Linked DNA regions of Homo sapiens. Each later gene encodes a partner of the first gene's protein in a complex. Each region holds a gene or a part of one and is shown in the gene's direction. Other genes may lie near its edges.

The links.
Region 2: PRPF8 (region 1) and LSM7 share a complex: the UniProt entries of both Homo sapiens proteins name them as parts of the U4/U6-U5 tri-snRNP complex.
Region 3: PRPF8 (region 1) and LSM6 share a complex: the UniProt entries of both Homo sapiens proteins name them as parts of the U4/U6-U5 tri-snRNP complex.

What each region holds. Positions count from the first base shown.
Region 1 is NC_000017.11:1,650,109-1,653,881, reverse strand, and holds the end of PRPF8 (pre-mRNA-processing-splicing factor 8), read left to right. Parts: coding exon 1-105; intron 106-198; coding exon 199-340; intron 341-2,093; coding exon 2,094-2,234; intron 2,235-2,328; coding exon 2,329-2,468; intron 2,469-2,571; coding exon 2,572-2,774; intron 2,775-2,925; coding exon 2,926-3,080; 3' UTR 3,081-3,253; downstream 3,254-3,773. UniProt on the Homo sapiens protein: Plays a role in pre-mRNA splicing as core component of precatalytic, catalytic and postcatalytic spliceosomal complexes, both of the predominant U2-type spliceosome and the minor U12-type spliceosome.
Region 2 is NC_000019.10:2,325,569-2,332,970, reverse strand, and holds the start of LSM7 (U6 snRNA-associated Sm-like protein LSm7), read left to right. Parts: upstream 1-4,384; 5' UTR 4,385-4,404; coding exon 4,405-4,410; intron 4,411-4,493; coding exon 4,494-4,584; intron 4,585-7,402. Other genes in the region: SPPL2B (signal peptide peptidase-like 2B isoform 2 precursor), read right to left, coding at 4,196-4,261. UniProt on the Homo sapiens protein: Plays a role in pre-mRNA splicing as component of the U4/U6-U5 tri-snRNP complex that is involved in spliceosome assembly, and as component of the precatalytic spliceosome (spliceosome B complex).
Region 3 is NC_000004.12:146,185,702-146,192,053, forward strand, and holds the end of LSM6 (U6 snRNA-associated Sm-like protein LSm6), read left to right. Parts: intron 1-1,572; coding exon 1,573-1,686; intron 1,687-3,920; coding exon 3,921-3,955; 3' UTR 3,956-5,834; downstream 5,835-6,352. UniProt on the Homo sapiens protein: Plays a role in pre-mRNA splicing as component of the U4/U6-U5 tri-snRNP complex that is involved in spliceosome assembly, and as component of the precatalytic spliceosome (spliceosome B complex).

The sequences.
Region 1 (3,773 bases):
AACACAGACTCGCACTGTCAACAAGCATGGCGATGAGATCATCACCTCCACCACCAGCAACTATGAGACCCAGACTTTCTCATCCAAGACTGAGTGGAGGGTCAGGTACTGTCGGGCAAGAGGGTGGGGATGGAAAGGCCGGCTGCACTACCTAAGGTGCTGGGCTGAGCGATGCTGACACTCCCTGCCTGTTTTTAGGGCCATCTCTGCTGCCAACCTGCACCTAAGGACCAATCACATCTATGTTTCATCTGACGACATCAAGGAGACTGGCTACACCTACATCCTTCCCAAGAATGTGCTTAAGAAGTTCATCTGCATATCTGACCTTCGGGCCCAAGTGAGTAAGTGGACTCAGCTAGGCCACAGTGTGTGCCCAACTCATTTTGTGCCTAAAACTCAGACCTGAGATTGTCTGGAACTTGAGATGCTGGTTTCAAGATTCATGGATGAGTAATTATACAAGGATAGCCAAAACAACGAGGTGGGTTTTGGCCCCATGAGATAGCAAAAGCTGTGGCAGCTGAGAGAAGGTAGTAATTGTAGTATTGGCCTGATAGTATTTGGAAGAGAACAGATATGGTCAGAAACAAATTCCTGACCAGGTGTGCGTGCTGGCTCATGCCTGTAATCCCAACACTCGGCTGGGCACAGTGGCTAATGCCTATAATCCCAGCACTTTGGGAGGCCTAGGTGGGTGGATCACCTGAGGTCAGGGGTTTGAGACCAGCCTGACCAATATGGTGAAACCCTGTCTCTACTAAAAATACAAAAAATTAGCCAGGCATGGTGGCATGCGCCCGTAGTTGCAGCTACTAGGGAGGTTGAGACAGGAGAATTGCTTGAACCCGGGAGGTGAGGTGGAGCTTGCAGTGAGCCAAGATTGCATCACTGCACTCCAGCCTGGGCAACAGAGCAAGACCCCGTCTAAAAAAACAAAACCAAAAAAAACGTGGCTGTAGTCCCAGCTACTCAGGAGGATGAGGTTGCTTGAACGCAAGCAGTGAGCTTTGATGACCCCACTGCACTCCAGGCTGGGCACAGTGGCTCATGACTGTAATCCCAGCACTGTGGGAGGCCGAGGTGGGCAGATCTTTTGAGCCCAGGAGTTCGAGACCAGCCTGGGCAACATGACGAAATGGAGTCTCTACAAAAAAAAAAAAAAAAAACTAGCCAGGCATGGTGGCATACACCTGTAATCTCAGCTACTCAGGAGGCTGAGGTGGGAGGATCACCTGATCCTGGAGGGTGGTGAGTGTAGTGAGCTGAGATCATGTCACTGCCTGCTAGCCTGGGTGACAGAGTGATACCCTGCTTCAAAAAAGAGAAAAGATGCATAACTTTACTAGTGTATCAGGGATATTATAGTTTATAAAACATCATTTTGGGCCAAGGTGGGTGAATCACTTGAGGTCAGGAGTTCAAGACCAGCTTGGCCAACGTGGCGAAACCCCGTCTCTCTTAAATATATGAAAATTAGCGGGGCATGGTGGCATGTGCCTGTAGTCCCAGCTACTCAGGAAGCTGAGGCAGGAGAATTGCTTGAACCCAGGAGGCGGAGGTCGCAGTGAGCTGAGATCACACCACTGCACTCCAGCCTTGCTGACAGAGTGAGACTCCATCTCAAACCCACTATTTAGTGGCTGTCAGGTTGGCAAATTTGAAAAGATTGTTAATATCCTGTGTGGGTGAGTTTATAGTAAACAGATCCTCTTTCTTTCTTGGTGATAATGTAAAACTTAAAATAGCACCAAGTGCTGGTTTTCCAGATGTTTTCAGCTTGTGAAAATACACTGAGCTGCATGTGTGCTCATTTGCTTGTGAATACTATGCTTAATAATCAGCTGGGGAGCTTGTGAGCAGTGCAGATTCCTGGACCCCACTCAGGAGATTCTGATGTGGTAAGTCCGCGATGAGGTCCATGTCTAACATTTTGAACAAGCACCCCAGCTGATTCTGATACAGGGGGTTCTGATCACGTTTTAAGAAACTCTGTCCTCGTTCTTGGGGGAAGGAAGGAAACAGAGGGCTGGCAGCTCCAACTCTGACCTGGTACTAAGAAGAGTTTTGGTTCCTGACCCCTTTGTCTCCAGATTGCAGGATACCTATATGGGGTGAGCCCACCAGATAACCCCCAGGTGAAGGAGATCCGCTGCATTGTGATGGTGCCGCAGTGGGGCACTCACCAGACCGTGCACCTGCCTGGCCAGCTGCCCCAGCATGAGTACCTCAAGGTAATGGGGAGTGATGGAGCCTGGGAGTGTGGAAAAGCTGGTGCGATTCCTGTCTGTGGATGGGATTCAGCTCTGTACTCCTCTTTACCTATAGGAGATGGAACCCTTAGGTTGGATCCACACTCAGCCCAATGAGTCCCCGCAGTTATCACCCCAGGATGTCACCACCCATGCCAAGATCATGGCTGACAACCCATCTTGGGATGGCGAGAAGACCATTATCATCACATGCAGGTGGGCCTGGGCTCCTTGGGAGGAAGTATGGTGGGGCAGGGATTGCAGGCCAGGGCCCAGAACAGTGGCCTGAGCTGTTACTCTGTCCTCGTTCCTCCCCCAGCTTCACGCCAGGCTCCTGTACACTGACGGCCTACAAGCTGACCCCCAGTGGCTACGAATGGGGCCGCCAGAACACAGACAAGGGCAACAACCCCAAGGGCTACCTGCCTTCACACTATGAGAGGGTGCAGATGCTGCTGTCGGACCGTTTCCTTGGCTTCTTCATGGTCCCTGCCCAGTCCTCGTGGAACTACAACTTCATGGGTAAGTGGGAGGAGCCTGGGGATGTGGGGATAGCAGTAGGGATAAGGTGAGGCCATCGCCCTTTGCACTTGGGGCCTGGCTGGCTTGGAGGTGGCGCAGGCTGCATGAGGCAGGAGCCCTGTTAACATTGGCTGTTTCCTTCTCCCCGAAGGTGTTCGGCATGACCCCAACATGAAATATGAGCTACAGCTGGCGAACCCCAAAGAGTTCTACCACGAGGTGCACAGGCCCTCTCACTTCCTCAACTTTGCTCTCCTGCAGGAGGGGGAGGTTTACTCTGCGGATCGGGAGGACCTGTATGCCTGACCGTTTCCCTGCCTCCTGCTTCAGCCTCCCGAGGCCGAAGCCTCAGCCCCTCCAGACAGGCCGCTGACATTCAGCAGTTTGGCCTCTTTCCCTCTGTCTGTGCTTGTGTTGTTGACCTCCTGATGGCTTGTCATCCTGAATAAAATATAATAATAAATTTTGTATAAATAGGAGTTCAGGGGCTGGTTTGTTTTTTTTTTCCCCCCCAAACTCAAATTCTGGATTTAGGTCTAACAGGAGGCTGGACTGGAGCGGTTCACAGCAAGATGCTGGGCTCGGCTGTGAAGGGGGGAGTATGAGGCCCCCTTCCTATTCAGGGCTTTGGGGTAGATAGCCCCTGGACTCAGTGGAGACCTGAGGCAGGGCTGGGCTTTCACACTCCGCTGCCTTGACCACATTTGCTGCTTTTTCCACAAAACTACTTGGAAGCTCTCGCCTCCTTTCCACAGTTTTGGGAGCAGTTGCCCTTTCCCGGGTCTAGGAACTCTGTGGCTTGTGCTGAGCGGCTGCGGTGTCCAGCCCAGCCCTTTAAGCTTTCTGTGTCAGTCCTGGTCAGGAAAACAAGCACACAGGCAGGCAGTTTGTGTACAGCCGGGCGGAGGCCAGAGACCGGCTGCCTACCTGTCACCTCTCGCCTGGAGCGGGCCACTGCCAAGTTGGCCCCATGACTCCAAACGGGCGGAGCCTGGATTG
Region 2 (7,402 bases), on another chromosome or scaffold:
TCCCCCTCCCAGCAGAGCCCAGTCCAGCCGCCCGCACCTGCCATCCCCACCTTCCTTCTGCTCCCCTGCCCAGGGCCCCCACCCAGCAGCTGACAAAGACATCTCCATCTCGCCAGGATGCCAGTCACCAGAGGGTCTCACAGCGATGGGGCCCAGGTCCCAGCTGCTGTGCCACACTGCAGACCCTCAGTGTGGGCCCCCAGGGGAGCCCGGCCTGCACAGGGAGGAGGGGTCCCAGAAGAAAAACCACGTGCCAGGGACCAAGGAGACCCACCCCATGCCCTAGGCCTGCCCGTTCTCAGGAGCACCCAGCCCTCAGCCTTCTGGGGCTGCAGGGCTCCTGCCAGGCTGTAAACCTCCCAGACAGAGAGACAGCCGCACCCCCTGGTCCCCAGGGGACCTGTCACGGAAACAAACAGGCCACAGCCATTTGCCTCATCAGGAACAGGATGGCAGCCACATGTCTGAACGGATGCTGAGCTGCGCACCAAACGGGCCGACACCACAACGCCACAAGGGAAAACAGTGCAGACGCAGCTCTGCCAAGCTAGGACTGGGGAAGGACAGCTCTGGCTTGGCTAAAGGTCCCAAAGGTCCCTGGTGCCAGACACCAACCCCAGCACACAGGCACAGACGGGCTCTCCAACAGCCGGGCCCTCATCACTGAAATCATGCAAAGTCTCCGGCCTGGTCTGGGAGCATCTGGGTCAAGGCCCTGGTGACCTCGGGGTGGCAGCATGGTGAAAGCCCACGGAGCCCCGGTCCCCACAATCGACTGGGGGTCTCATAGCTCTTGGCTAATGCTGCTTCCTTCCCACAGCTGCCCCAGCCCCACTCCAAGCACCTCCCATGTGACCTCCCCCAGAGCCCAGGCAGAGTCAGGAGCCCTTTCTTTCCAGTTCTGCCCACCAGACTGCCTGCCCGTGAGAGCACCCCTTAGTCTGGCCCCGGTGCCGAGCCCGGAGGGTGCCCCTTCCAACACAGCCCCCCAGAACCCCTCCTCCAGGAGGGATGTTATGGGTCACGGCAGAGGCCAAGAATCCACAGTCCGGCCCACCTTCTGTGTTTGTAAATAAAGTTTTATTGGAACACAGCCAAGCCCATTCCTAAGGAAGGGTCTCCGGCTCTGGAAGAACAACAGGAGAAACCAAGCAACCAAACCAGAGGCCACGTGGGCCACAGAGCCCAGCAAAACTACTGTCTAGCCCTTCCCAGAAAACACTTGCCAAGCTCTGTTCTATGGGATCAGGGACTCTGGTGAAAAGTGTCTTTTGTGTAAAATGGGAACTGATAGAACTGCTTCTCTGCTTCTCTCTAAAAGGGTCATTTAAAAGCACAAAAGCACATTCATGCATTTTCCTCTCCACAATTCGCAAAACTGGTTTTCCATTAAAAAAACAAGCCTGTGCCTCTATCAAAGGCCAGAGAACGCGGCATCTCACCGGGAAGAGTTTCCTCACCTGCTGAGTTAAAGGAACGGGGAACAATTCTTCCAAAGGCCACAGCTCTAAGAGGGCCCTGAGTTCTAGACAGGCCCACCGAAATTTGGAGGAGCAGAAAAAGCTCAGGCTACAAGGACAGGCTCAAAGCCCAAGCCTCGACCTCCAAATCCTTCACAATTGCAGCACAAACGCTTTGCAACCGCACACAGGTTCAGAAACTACTAGGCTTAGAAACCCCGCTTCCAAGTGACTGTGAAAGCATCCACATCAAGGGCCTTTGAAACAGGCCAGTGAGTCCAGGCGGGGAGAGCCTCCCTTCTGGGAAGACTGAGGAGTTCCAGGAGCCGGGCCGGGTCCAGCCAGGGCCACCAGCTCCAGCTCAGATCTGCTGAGGAGCGGGCTCCGTGGGGTGGGGGAAGGGAGGTGTCTCACTGGGGAGGTCGACTTCCTTGCTCAGGGTCACAGAATGGTAGCAAGCAAGCGAGTTGAGGACTGTCACCAACCAGGCTCCTGCCCTGAGAGCAAGTCTCATTCTTGGGCAATCGGACTCAAATTTCCACTGCCGCGAAGCACTGCCCCCCTCCAGGGACAGGCGTCTCAGGGTGTATTTACAACCAGGGTTCTGGAAGGGGCAGGAACACCTGCTCTCTCACGTCCCTCTGACACATCCTTTGACTCCCCACCCTCCGGATAAAGCTCACACTCCTCAGCCCGCCCAGGTTAAAGTCCACGCACCCCAGCACCAAGCGCCTTCCACGGCCTGGCTTCCACCAGACAACCTGTCATCCAGACTAGGAGGCTGAATGCTCTGCCTTCACTCTCTGCCTGGGGCCACTCGCACCACTGCCCCCTCCTCTGTGCCCCTGCTCCAGCAACCCTCCACGGCCCACCCCCCGGGCCTCCTTGGTGGTGACATCTTTCAGGGTGTAAACCCTTCCTTCCAGCATTATTCCACCCTACACTCCAGCCACAGCCCACCCCTTGCCAACCCCAAATAACCTGCCAGCTCTCACACCTCCCAGCCCCCGCTTATGCTGCTTCTGGTGCTTCCAACACCCTTCCCCTCCTGCCGACCCGGCAAACTCCTACTCATCATTCAGAACACCTGCCTCGGGGCCGGGCACGGTGGCTCACGCCTGTCATCCCAGCACTTTGGGTGGCCGAAGCAGGTGGATCACCTGAGGTCTGAAGTTCGAGACCAGCCTGACCAACATGGTGAAACCTCGTCTCTACTAAAAAAAAAAAAAAAAAAATTTAGCCAGGAGTGGTGGCATGCACCTGTAATCCCAGCTATTCGGGAGGCTGAGGTGGGAGAATTGCTTGAACCGGGAGGCAGAGGTTGCAGTGAGCCTAGATCATGCCACTGCACTCCAGCCTGGGCGACAGAGCGAGACTCCGTCTCAAAAAAAAAAAATAGATCTGCTTCGGAAAAGCCTTCCCAGGCAAACTGAGTCCCTCTCTCCACAGAGTTCTGTGATCTTTCTTCCACCTCTGGCTTTCCCCCTCCTTCCAAATGTCTGGGGAGCTCTAGGTGCCTGGCTGCAGAATGGGGGGAGTCCAAAGGGGGCTGACAGAGCAGCTGGGGGTAGGACTGGGGTTCTCAGAAAGCTTCCGAGGGGGCCCGACAGCCTTGCAGAGACCAGGGGCATCTCAGGGTAAGAGAAAAGACTAGAGAGTGAAGCGACTGCAATGAGCTGCAGGCTTCCCCAGCAGCCAGGTCACAACTGGACGGCGCACTCATCTGGATGCGACACGGTCTGACATACTTTGAAAGGGTCACCCCTGCTGTGTCGAGGATGGACTGGGGATGTGGTGGACAAAGGCAGCCACAGCAGAGGGATAGCGGTGGGGCTGGAGGAGTGGAGACTGAGGAGCCAGGTGGCGGCGACGCCTTAAGAGTGAGAACTCTGAGGGGGTAGTGAAGGTTAAGGGCTGCATTTGTGGGGCTGCTCCAGGTTCCATTGCCTGAGCCACCGAACTCAGGAGAGAGGGAAGATTTGGAATTAAGAAAATAAAAGATGCAGTTATGACAGTGCGATCTCGTAGACTGTCCCCACTAGAACCTGACACTCTTTACATCAAATGACACACAATGAACATAATGAAGGCCTGTTGGCCCTGGGCGCTGGTCACCCTGGACAGAACCTCCAGAATCCACACCATAGTCGGTCCTCCTTCTGCACACGAATTCCATCGTCCAAGGTCACGGAGTAAAAGATGGAGCGGGGATCCGACCCCAGTGCAGGGCTGGACTCCTGGCCGCTCCAGGATGCTGCCAGTTACTGGGGGACGCGCGGGACGCCTCTGGGTTCCCCCACCGCACCCCCTAGGGTGAGGTTAGCTTAGCACCGTGCCCGTTCCGCCTAAGGGGAAACTGAGGCTCGGAGAGGGGTGGGCAGCCGCCTGCTCAAGGCCACAGAGCCGGAGAGAGGCGTCCCCGGCGGCAACTGGAGACCCCGAAACGGAGAAGCAGAACCGGAGGATGGAGGGGGCACAAATTTCAGACCCGGTGGGAAGTGAGTGGCGCTGCAGCGGCGGAGGGCCTCCGAGGCGGGGAAAGGAGAGGAGCCGGGGACAGACCCGCAAGGTCACGGCCGAGCCCCGGCACCGCCGGCCGACAACGCGGGGACGGCGGATCCCCGAGGCTGGACCCCCAAGACGGGCCGAGCGGGGTCGTTCCTGCGCGTAGCCCGGGGACAGAGAGGCCGAAGGGCCGCAGCCCGCGGTGCCGTCGGGACCGGTGCCGCGCTCACCTGGGCCGCGAGGAGCAGAAAGGCCGCCAAAAGCCGCGCCAGCGCAGCCGCCACCGCTGCCGCCATGTCGGCCGGTGCCCGCCGCAACCAACGGCAGATGTTTCCCAGCAACGCCCCGAGACCCCGGGCCACGCATGCGCCGCGCATGCGCGTGGGGGAGGTCAAAGGGCGCGGGGCGGTGCCTGCGAAGAGCCACACGGCGCGACAAGATGGCGGTGAGCGCGCGGCGGAATCTGGAGCCGGGGGGCGTGGAGCTCGGGCCGCGCTCCAGGTCTCATGCGCTCTGCTTTCCCCGCAGGATAAGGAGAAGAAGAAAAAGGAGAGCATCTTGGACTTGTCCAAGTACATCGACAAGACGATCCGGGTAAAGTTCCAGGGAGGCCGCGAAGGTGAGGAGGCTCCCGCTGTCGGTACCCCCTCTTTAAAAATTTCAAATAAACCCAGCAACAGAGATGATGAGGACGCATGCGGAAGCACCTCTTTTATTTATTTTCATTATTTTTTTTGAGACGCAGTCTCGCTCTGTCACCCGGGCTGGAGTGCAGTGGTGCGATCTCAGCTCACTGCAACCTCCGCCTCCCAGGTTCAAGTGATTCTTGTGCCTCAGCCTCCCGAGTAGCTGGAATTAATGTGTACCACCACGCCCGGCTAATATTTGTATTTTTAGTAGAGAGGCCATGTTGGCCAGGATGGTCTCAAACTCCTGGCCTCAAGCGATCTGCCTGCCTCAGCCCCCTAAATTGCTGGGATTTCAGGCATGAGCCACCATGCCCAGCCTAGCATTTTTGACTGGGCAAGTGAGCTGCCTTCTCCTAGCCTCCGTTTCCTCATTTGTCAAATGGGGCTGGTAACTCCACCCACTTCACAGGGGGTGGTGAGAATGAATGGTTACAGGCATGTAATGTAATTGAGGCAGCTCTCAGCAGGAAGTAAGCAGTCAGACAACACGTCACTTATTCAATAGCCTCTTGGATCTTTGGTTTCTTTTTTTTGTAAGACGGGGACCCAAACCTCTTTGTCCCTGGATTGTAGACAACTGGGTGGCATGAGAGTTATTAAAAATCACAGTGCCCCAGCCGGACGGGGCGGCTCACGTGTGTAATCCCAGCAATTTGGGAGTCTGAAGCAGGAGGGTGGCTTCACCCTAGGGTTTGAGGCTGCAGTGAGCTATGACCGCACCACTGCACTCCAGCCTGGGCCACAGAGCAAGGCCCAGTCTCAAAAGAGAAAAAGGAGGCCAGGCACAGTGGCTCATGCCTTTAATCTTGACACTTTGGGAGGCCGAGGCAGGCAGATCAGGAGGTCAGGAGATCAAGACCATCCTGGCCTACGTGGTGAAACCCTGTCTCTACTAAAATACAAAAAGTTAGCTGGGCATGGTGGCGCACGCTTGTAGTCCCAGCTACTCGGGGGGCTGAGGCAGGAGAATTGCTTGAACCCCAGAGGCGAGATTGTGCCACCGCACTCCAGCCTGGCGATAGGGCAAGACTCCGTCTCAAAACAAAAAGAAAAAGGAATATGAATAAAATGTTTTCTCAGTCTACACCATGCTGACTCCGGACATGGAAGGACATGAGTGAGCGGCCGCTCTTGCTGGTCACACTGCTTCCCTTTGTTTTCTGCCCTTCATAGCAAATCACCCATTTAGCAGCTGAAACAGCACCATTTTATTATCTCACAGGATCTGTGAGTCAGGAGCCAGGGTACCACAGCCTCAAGGGCTCTCAGGAGGTTGTAACTGAGGGTTGTTTTTTGGGGTCCATCATCTTGGGGTCTTCTTCTGAGCCCACTGGTTATTGACAGAGCTCAGTGCCTTACCTTTGCAGGGCCAGGGTCCCCGTTCTGGCCAGTGTTGGCTAGGGACACTTGCAGCTCCCGGACGCTGCCAGCTCGGGACTCTGTTCCACCGTGGTGGTCTGCCCCTACAGTGCTGCAGGCTGAGCTGACATTTGTCCATATTCAGTTATTCGGGCCAGTGGGAGAATCATCTTTCAGAAAGGGTTTGGGGCCGGGTGCGGGGGCTCACGCCTTAATCCCAGCAGTCTGGGAGGCTAAGGCAGGTGGATCACCTGAGGTCAGGAGTTCGAGACCAGCCTGGCCAACATGGCGAAACCCCATCTCTACTAAAAGTACAACAATTAACTGGGCGCTGTGGCTCACGCCTGTAATCCCAGCACTTTGGGAGGCTGAGGCGGGCAGATCACTTGAGTTCAGGAGTTTGAGACCAGCCTGGCCTACATGGCAAGGCCCCATCTCTACTAAAAATACAAAAATTATTTGGGCATGGTGGCGCATGCCTGTAGTCCCAGCTACTTGGGAGGCTGAGGCAGGAGAATCGCCCTGGAGGCAGAGGTTGCAGTGAGCTGAGATCGCGCCACTGCATTCCAGCCTGGGCGACAGAGCAAGACTCCATCTCAAACACACACACACACACACACACACACACACACACACACACACACAAAAAGCAGAAAGGGTTTGGTCCCTGAAGGGCTCACCTGATGCAGTCAGGCCCACCCAGGGTGTTTCTCTCTTGATTGGCTCAGTCAGCTGATTCAGGGGCTCTAATTACAGCTGCAAAGTTCCTTGTCTTTGCCACATAACCTAAGCGCAGGAGTGACATCTTGTCCCGTCAGAGTCACAGGCCCTAGCCCACACTCCAGAGGAGGGGCACCTTGGCTCCATGTTAGAGACCTACCTACCTCAGTGCTCACATCTCTCCCCGTGAGGAGGGCGGGCTCACTGGTCAGGCTGGTGCCAAGGACCTGAACATCTGCATCTGACCCCATCTTATAGGTGAGTTTCATTTTGCAGGGGAGGGACTTGAGCAAAGAGAGAGGGAGCCGTGGAGGTGGAAGCTGAAGCCTGTGGAGGTGGACGGAAGCTTGTATGCAGGCGGGCAGACCTTCTCTGTAGAAGGCCAGACGGCAAATATCTTTAGCTTTGCAGCCCAGATGGTCTCTGTCACAACCACTGAGCTATGCCAGCAGAGCAGGAGAGCCACCCTGGTCAGCGCCTGAGCGGGCGAGTGTGGTGGTGGGCCAGCGAGACTCTGACTTACAGAGAGGAGCGGCGGGCAGGTTCACCTGGGGGTCGTAGTTTGCAGACCCTCCCCCGCACCACCGCACAGGGCGGCCCTCGGTGTGTGTGGAGCAGCCGTGGACGGGCTCTCGGCCCTGCCTTGGGAGGAGACAGGCAGGCAGAATA
Region 3 (6,352 bases), on another chromosome or scaffold:
ATAGATATTTTAATTAGAAGTGAACTCTTTTTTTTTTTTCTTTTTTCTTTTTTGAGACCGAGTCTCACTCTTTCGCCCAGGCTGGAGTGCAGTGGCTCAGTCTTGGCTCACTGCAACCTCCGCCTCCCAAGTTCAGACGATTCTCCTGCCTCAGCCTCCCAAGTAGCTGGGATTACAGGCACCTGCCACCATGCCTGGCTAATTTTTGTATTTTTAGTAGAGACGGGGTTTCGCCATGTTAGCCAGGCTGATCTTGAACTCCTGACCTCAAGTGATCTGCCAGCTTCTACCTCCCAAAGTACTGGGATTACAGGCATGAGCCACTTTGCCCAGCCTGGACATTTCATTTTGAAATTCTTTTCATTGGTTTTCAAACAGGTTTGCATATTGTGCCTCAGATTTTTCTTGCTCATTTATAATTGCAGTTTGTATGTAAAATAGTACAGCAGGAAACGAGCTAAAGTTGTAGCTTAAGCTTTCTTTTGCTAGGAAATAATTTTATTATTCACAGTCCATTCTCGTTCTTTGAGAGTTTACCGCTTTTAGCAGAATTCTGGTAGATTAATGTCTTTTGCTGTCATTACACAATTTTGAAAGGAAACTTTTTTGTTTAGAGGATAATGGGGGCAGAGGCAGAGAGTGAGGAGCATATTAATGAAGTTAAGACATCAAATGAGAAACTATAGACTCGACTGAATTGAATCTAGTATTTGTTTTTACTTAAATTTTTTTTTCTAGGAAATACCACTTTAAATTAGAGACAGAATTAGAGGCTTACAGATTTTCATCTTTTGAAAAAGATCATCAGGTCAAATTTTACAAAATTTATACCATCTTAACACAATTAAAGATTGACTCAAACTGTTTCCTTGAAAGCTCCCTCGAATGTTTTTGGCCATTTTCTCTATTAGTTTTGATTGGAAAATATTATAGCTGTAACAAAACAGAACAAGATGTGTTATAATGCAATATGTTGCCCTATATTCTCAAGCTGCTCTTCACTGTGAGTCACAGCTTTAAGATGTTCTTTCGGGAGCACCTGCTGTCTCCTCTTCTATTATTTTAACAGATTGTGGAGACTTCCTTTTAACCCTGGAGTACATTCATCTGCTGCAATAGATGTTGTAAAAGAATGAAATAAATCTGCCAGACCCGTATTTCACTTAGTGGCTAAAGTAGGAAATGCCACTGGAACCAAGGATCATTTGTTTATGCATAATTGCCCACCTTGTGCTTAGCTTTCAAAGAATGGTATTTTTGCCGGAATAGTCTTATTCTCTTACTTTTTTGAATGCTTTAAAAGTTTCTGTGTGGTCATACGTACCATGAGGGAAGTGACAGTTTGTTGTTTTACCGGGTAGTAGTGGGTGCGTGACTGCCTTCCTAGACTTCATTCAGATTGGCATAGAGTTGTTTTGTGCTTAAGCTGTTGAGTTTCATTTATGGTGTGAATTTTTATATTAAGCATCTAAGAACTAATGAATAAAGAGATTGTCTGCTCTAAGGTATACCCTGTAATTTTCAACTCTTATTTGCCTTGTGTATCTTCTTTTTGACTAAATATGTCTGCAGGGGTCCTGGCTTGCCTGGATGGCTACATGAATATAGCCCTGGAGCAGACAGAAGAATATGTAAATGGACAACTGAAGAATAAGTATGGGGATGCATTTATCCGAGGAAACAATGGTAACATTTCTTCGCCCTACAGTACAGCATTCAAAATAAGCCTTTCTATTTATAATCCAGATCACCAAAGAGGTTTCTAGATAATTTAAAAGTCCACTTTTAGGCTTGATTATTTTAAAATGCTTATATGTCAGATCTTCAGTTTGACCAGTTATTTTGTAGATGCTTCATGGAATTTTGAAACCAAAATTCTCTCCTTCCCTTCCTTTAGTGATGAGGAACTGAGGGACATTGTTCTCCTTACCTGGAACCCTGCTTTCTCGAATATAGTGTAGTATATCTCCCCAACACATATTCCTGCTTCTTGTAGCCTGGAAGTTGGAGATGTAAGAATGGGCACCGTTTCCCTGCTGTCTTTGATTTGCATAATTTGGCAGTTCGTCCTATTTGTCCCTTCTCTATTAAACATTCAGATGCTTTCTATGCAGATTTGCATCCTTCAGTTTGGCAAAAATGGCAAAATAGAAAAAGTTACTCAGTTTTTAACAACTAATAAATTGCTATGATTTTTATAGTTATTTTTAAGTACCTAGTTTAAAAATGAAAATTATAATAAAGTCATATTTGTATTTTTGGTGGGGAGGGAAAGATATCAGAATTATGAGAATTACCCCACTTTTTGGTTCCATCTCCCAGAAACTCTGGGATTCTTGAGTTCAGATTTTTTGTTGATTTCTTTAATTCTGGATGTCTTCAACCCCCTAAATAGTTGGATCTCTTTGCTATAAACTAAACTTCCTGACTTTTATAATAAGAGTCTGTCCCCTATGCTTACAGGACCTTATTTCTTCATATCATATTTTTACATACATTATTTCCTGGCTTTCTAGTCCTTTCTATTTATAGAATTATTTATCCTATTTTTCATATCCTTATTTGACCTCCTCTTTTTCCTAAGAAATGTTATGATCTTGTCTCACCTCAAGACAGCTAATGGCAGCAGTCACTGGCAGGTTGGGTTCTGTGCGTGTTGATAGGGTAGATCCTTTAACGTGCACACTACCCCTAGGACTTGGGGGGCAGGGTTGGGGGGCGGCTGTACTGGCATTCTGATGCTTCCCTTCATGTCACATTTCCCATGATGTAATCAGTGACACTCATCTTTAGACTCCCAAGTTCACATCATTGGCTCTTAAAGAGGATCTTGACTTATTTGATTCATCTGTGCTATGTTCTTTGATGAAGACACCTTACTGTTCGCTTTGAGCAGACCTCTCAGAAGCCGAGTAGGCATGGAAGGTGGAAGGGAGAACCACCTCTAGTTTGGCCAAAGTGACCCAAGCATTTCATTTTGTTTCATTCCTACGGACCACACATCCTACGAGTTCATGTTGGTAGTCATGAGAAGACCACTAAGCAGAACATTAGGTAACACCAAAGTATGAGACTTTTAACGGGAACTCAGAATAAGGACTTTGGTATCATTAAAAAATAAAAATAAAAAATAAACTCCTTAGCTCTTGTTTATCCTGTTGCATTTAAGAAGGTAAACAGCAAGTTTAGAGTTTGTATTGGGGAGACAGATGAAAATATGTTGTTTATTCTTAATTTGAGATCTAGCCTGGTTAGATTTACTGATTTACTTTCTGAAAAGCATCTTTTTTTTTTTTTTTTTTTCCTGAGATGAAGTCTCGCTCTGTGGCCCAGGCTGGAGTGTAGTTGTGCAATCTCAGCTCACTGCAGCCTCTGCCTCCCAAGCTCAAGCAGTCCTCCCACCTCAGCGTTCTAAGTCGCTGGGACTACAAGTGCATATACCACCATGCCTGGTTAATTTTTTGTATTTTTGGTAGAAACGGGGTTTCACCATGTTGCCCAGGCTGGTCTCAAACTTCTGAGCTCAAGTGATCCACCCGCTTCAGCCTCCCAAAGTGCTAAGATTGCAGGCGTGAGCCACCGTGTTCAGCCCTGAAAAGCATAATTCTTATACTTCTAACTATAAAGCATTCTTAGATACCAGGGACTTTCACATATATTTTATTTTATCTTCCTGGTCACACTTTAAAGAGTCAGTGAGACACATGGATGAAATTAGGACAGTTTTGTAAGACATCAAACCTGGGTGTAGATTCATAAAACTAGTCTTACAGTACTTCTAGAGTTAATTGAATGATACGAGAATTCCTTTTAAATGTCAGATGTATCAGACCAAAATCTGTTGGCTTTTAAACTTGCTACTATGTATACTTACAAGCAGGGTTTTTTAAATTTCAATTTATGTATTTTTTTCTTTTCAGTGTTGTACATCAGTACACAGAAGAGACGGATGTGAAGACACCAAGAGAGCAACGCTTTTCATAGTTGGATATATTTTTTTATGAATTTTTTCTAATTTTTGCTTCTTTTGTGATACAATTTGTCCTCTTTTTATAATAGTTGGTGATTTTTCACTGACATGTGAGTAAGATAAATGTATACAATTGTGGATTTAATTGTGAAATGTTCTTTCACTTGTAAGTTTCAGTCATTTTCTTTTACCTCGTTGTCAGTGTACAGAATGCTAAAATAATTAAAAAAAGACAAAATATACCTCTTCCTACAAGATTATTTAACTTAAGTTTCGAGAAGTGTCATTTCATTTGACTTGCTTTTCTTATCCAGCTAAAATGATGCATATATTTTATATATTGTATGGACATATAATTAAAACATTTTGGAGGAATCCTCCTTTATTGCATCCTTTTCTGTTCATACAGAATCCTTGCGTGAATATGTTCTACAAAGGCATCCAGTTTCAGTCTGAAGCTACAAAAAGGGGCCACAGGATCAGAAGTTCAGCCACTGATTGAGTCACCTAAATAAAAAACAGAATTGGAAAGCCAAGAGTGCCACTTGCACATAAGGAGTGGGAATTCGAACTGAGGTGCTGGAGAAATCCTAAAGATGAACAAGATTTCAGTGAGGAGAAAGCCCTCCTGTCAGTGGTCCCCCTGCATCTCCTTATGCAATTAGACTTTTTAGGTTTCCCTGCTCCCTTTCAGGAGCATTGGCATCAACGTTATTCTCTCAGTTTATGAACACAGTAGGGGAGGGGCCATTCCTGTACATCTCTCACAGTCAGATTAAAGCAAAGCCTAGAGTTTGTAAACATAATTCAGGTTCTAATTGCCGAGCTGAGATTGGGAAAGAATTTTTCCTAACTCTGGTCTAGCAAGTGGCTGTAGGGAGGCCTTTCTCAAAAATCAGCTGTATTTGCCTTTGACATTGTCCAGGAGCAGAGCACCAGGCTTTATGTTGCTTGGCACAAGGCAGCTCCTCTGGTTATGTGACTCCTGCTGAGAGGATTTTCACAATTTATTAATGAGCTTTCCACAACCCTGCTTTATTCTCCAAACAGTTTTACGCTGTCTCTAGGAACAACAAATATATCTGGGCACTGTGGTTGAATGAATACCAGACAATTGTGTGAATGTTGTATTGGACTTCCTCTTCCCTCCCTTCCCAATCTAAATAGCATTCCTATTTCAGGAGCCGATGGTGTGATTCGAAACAACTGCTTGGTTGAAGGATGGGGGGCAGGATCGAGAAGGAGAGAGGGAAGGGGCAGTGCTGATTCTGGAGAGGTGTATGTAGTGTTTTGTCTTGGTTTATTTTAAAGATCAGAGAGTAATTGGAAACAATTATTTTTTAATTAATAACTTGGGAAAGGTGAACAGAAGCATTTCACAGGGTTTTACCGTGTGCACACTGAAAATAAAACACTTTATGCTATGCTTCAATAATTTATCACTTCTTGACAGGGGCTTGGAAAAGGTCCAGTATGTAAGTACAAATCACCAATTTGCTCTTTTATAAATGAGTTCTTTTAAGGAGAAAATGGATGGCTCTCCAAGTGGAGCATACATGTTCTCATTTGTTTTGTAGAATATGTGGGGCTGCAGGTTATTGTGTCCCTTCATTCACTTATATCAGCCACCTCTAAAAGCAATTCCATTGTAGTCTCCCACTAATCTGTAGCGTCCTGTTTTTTCTAACTTCTTCCCTGACCTCGCCTTTGATATATAAGTCTTTATTTTCCCCTTGCCATCTCTCTAGTTTAATAGCTCTACAGTGGAGTACTGTTTTCAACCATGGAACTACTTTTAATCAAGATCAACTTTGGGAAGTGCTGCCATTTTTATGGTAATAAAGGACTGTATTATGCACTTGAACCCGCTCAAGTTGTCCCCTGTGTATACCTTCACATAGTAGAACCATGAAACAAAGTGTAAATGCTTAAATTGCTTTGTTCTTAACTGTAGTCTCCTAGAGGTCAGTGAATGATTTCTAGTTGCATTGTAGCGAAGACATTTGTTCCAGGTTGAAGAATTTTTTACTTGAGAACATACATTTTCCCTGTCTGTGTGCCCCCAAACCCTGTCTGCCACACTCTTTCTCTTGGGCTGTGACAAAACAGAATGTTTAGCGAGAAACAAAATTGTGCTCGATTTTCAGACTATCTGACTTCATTTTCTGTTTTGGTCTTTGAGCTATTCCTTGGCTAATCTTCCAACAAGTCGAATTGATTCTTATTTCAAAACTGTTTATCCCAAAACAGAGCTGTTGACAAGTACAAATACAGATGGCAGACATGTGGTATGATTTTCATGTTCTCATCTCAGCATTCAGGAAGGGAATGTTATTGAAAGATGGTTTACATCTGAAGCTTTCTGCTCAAGGCAATATGGAA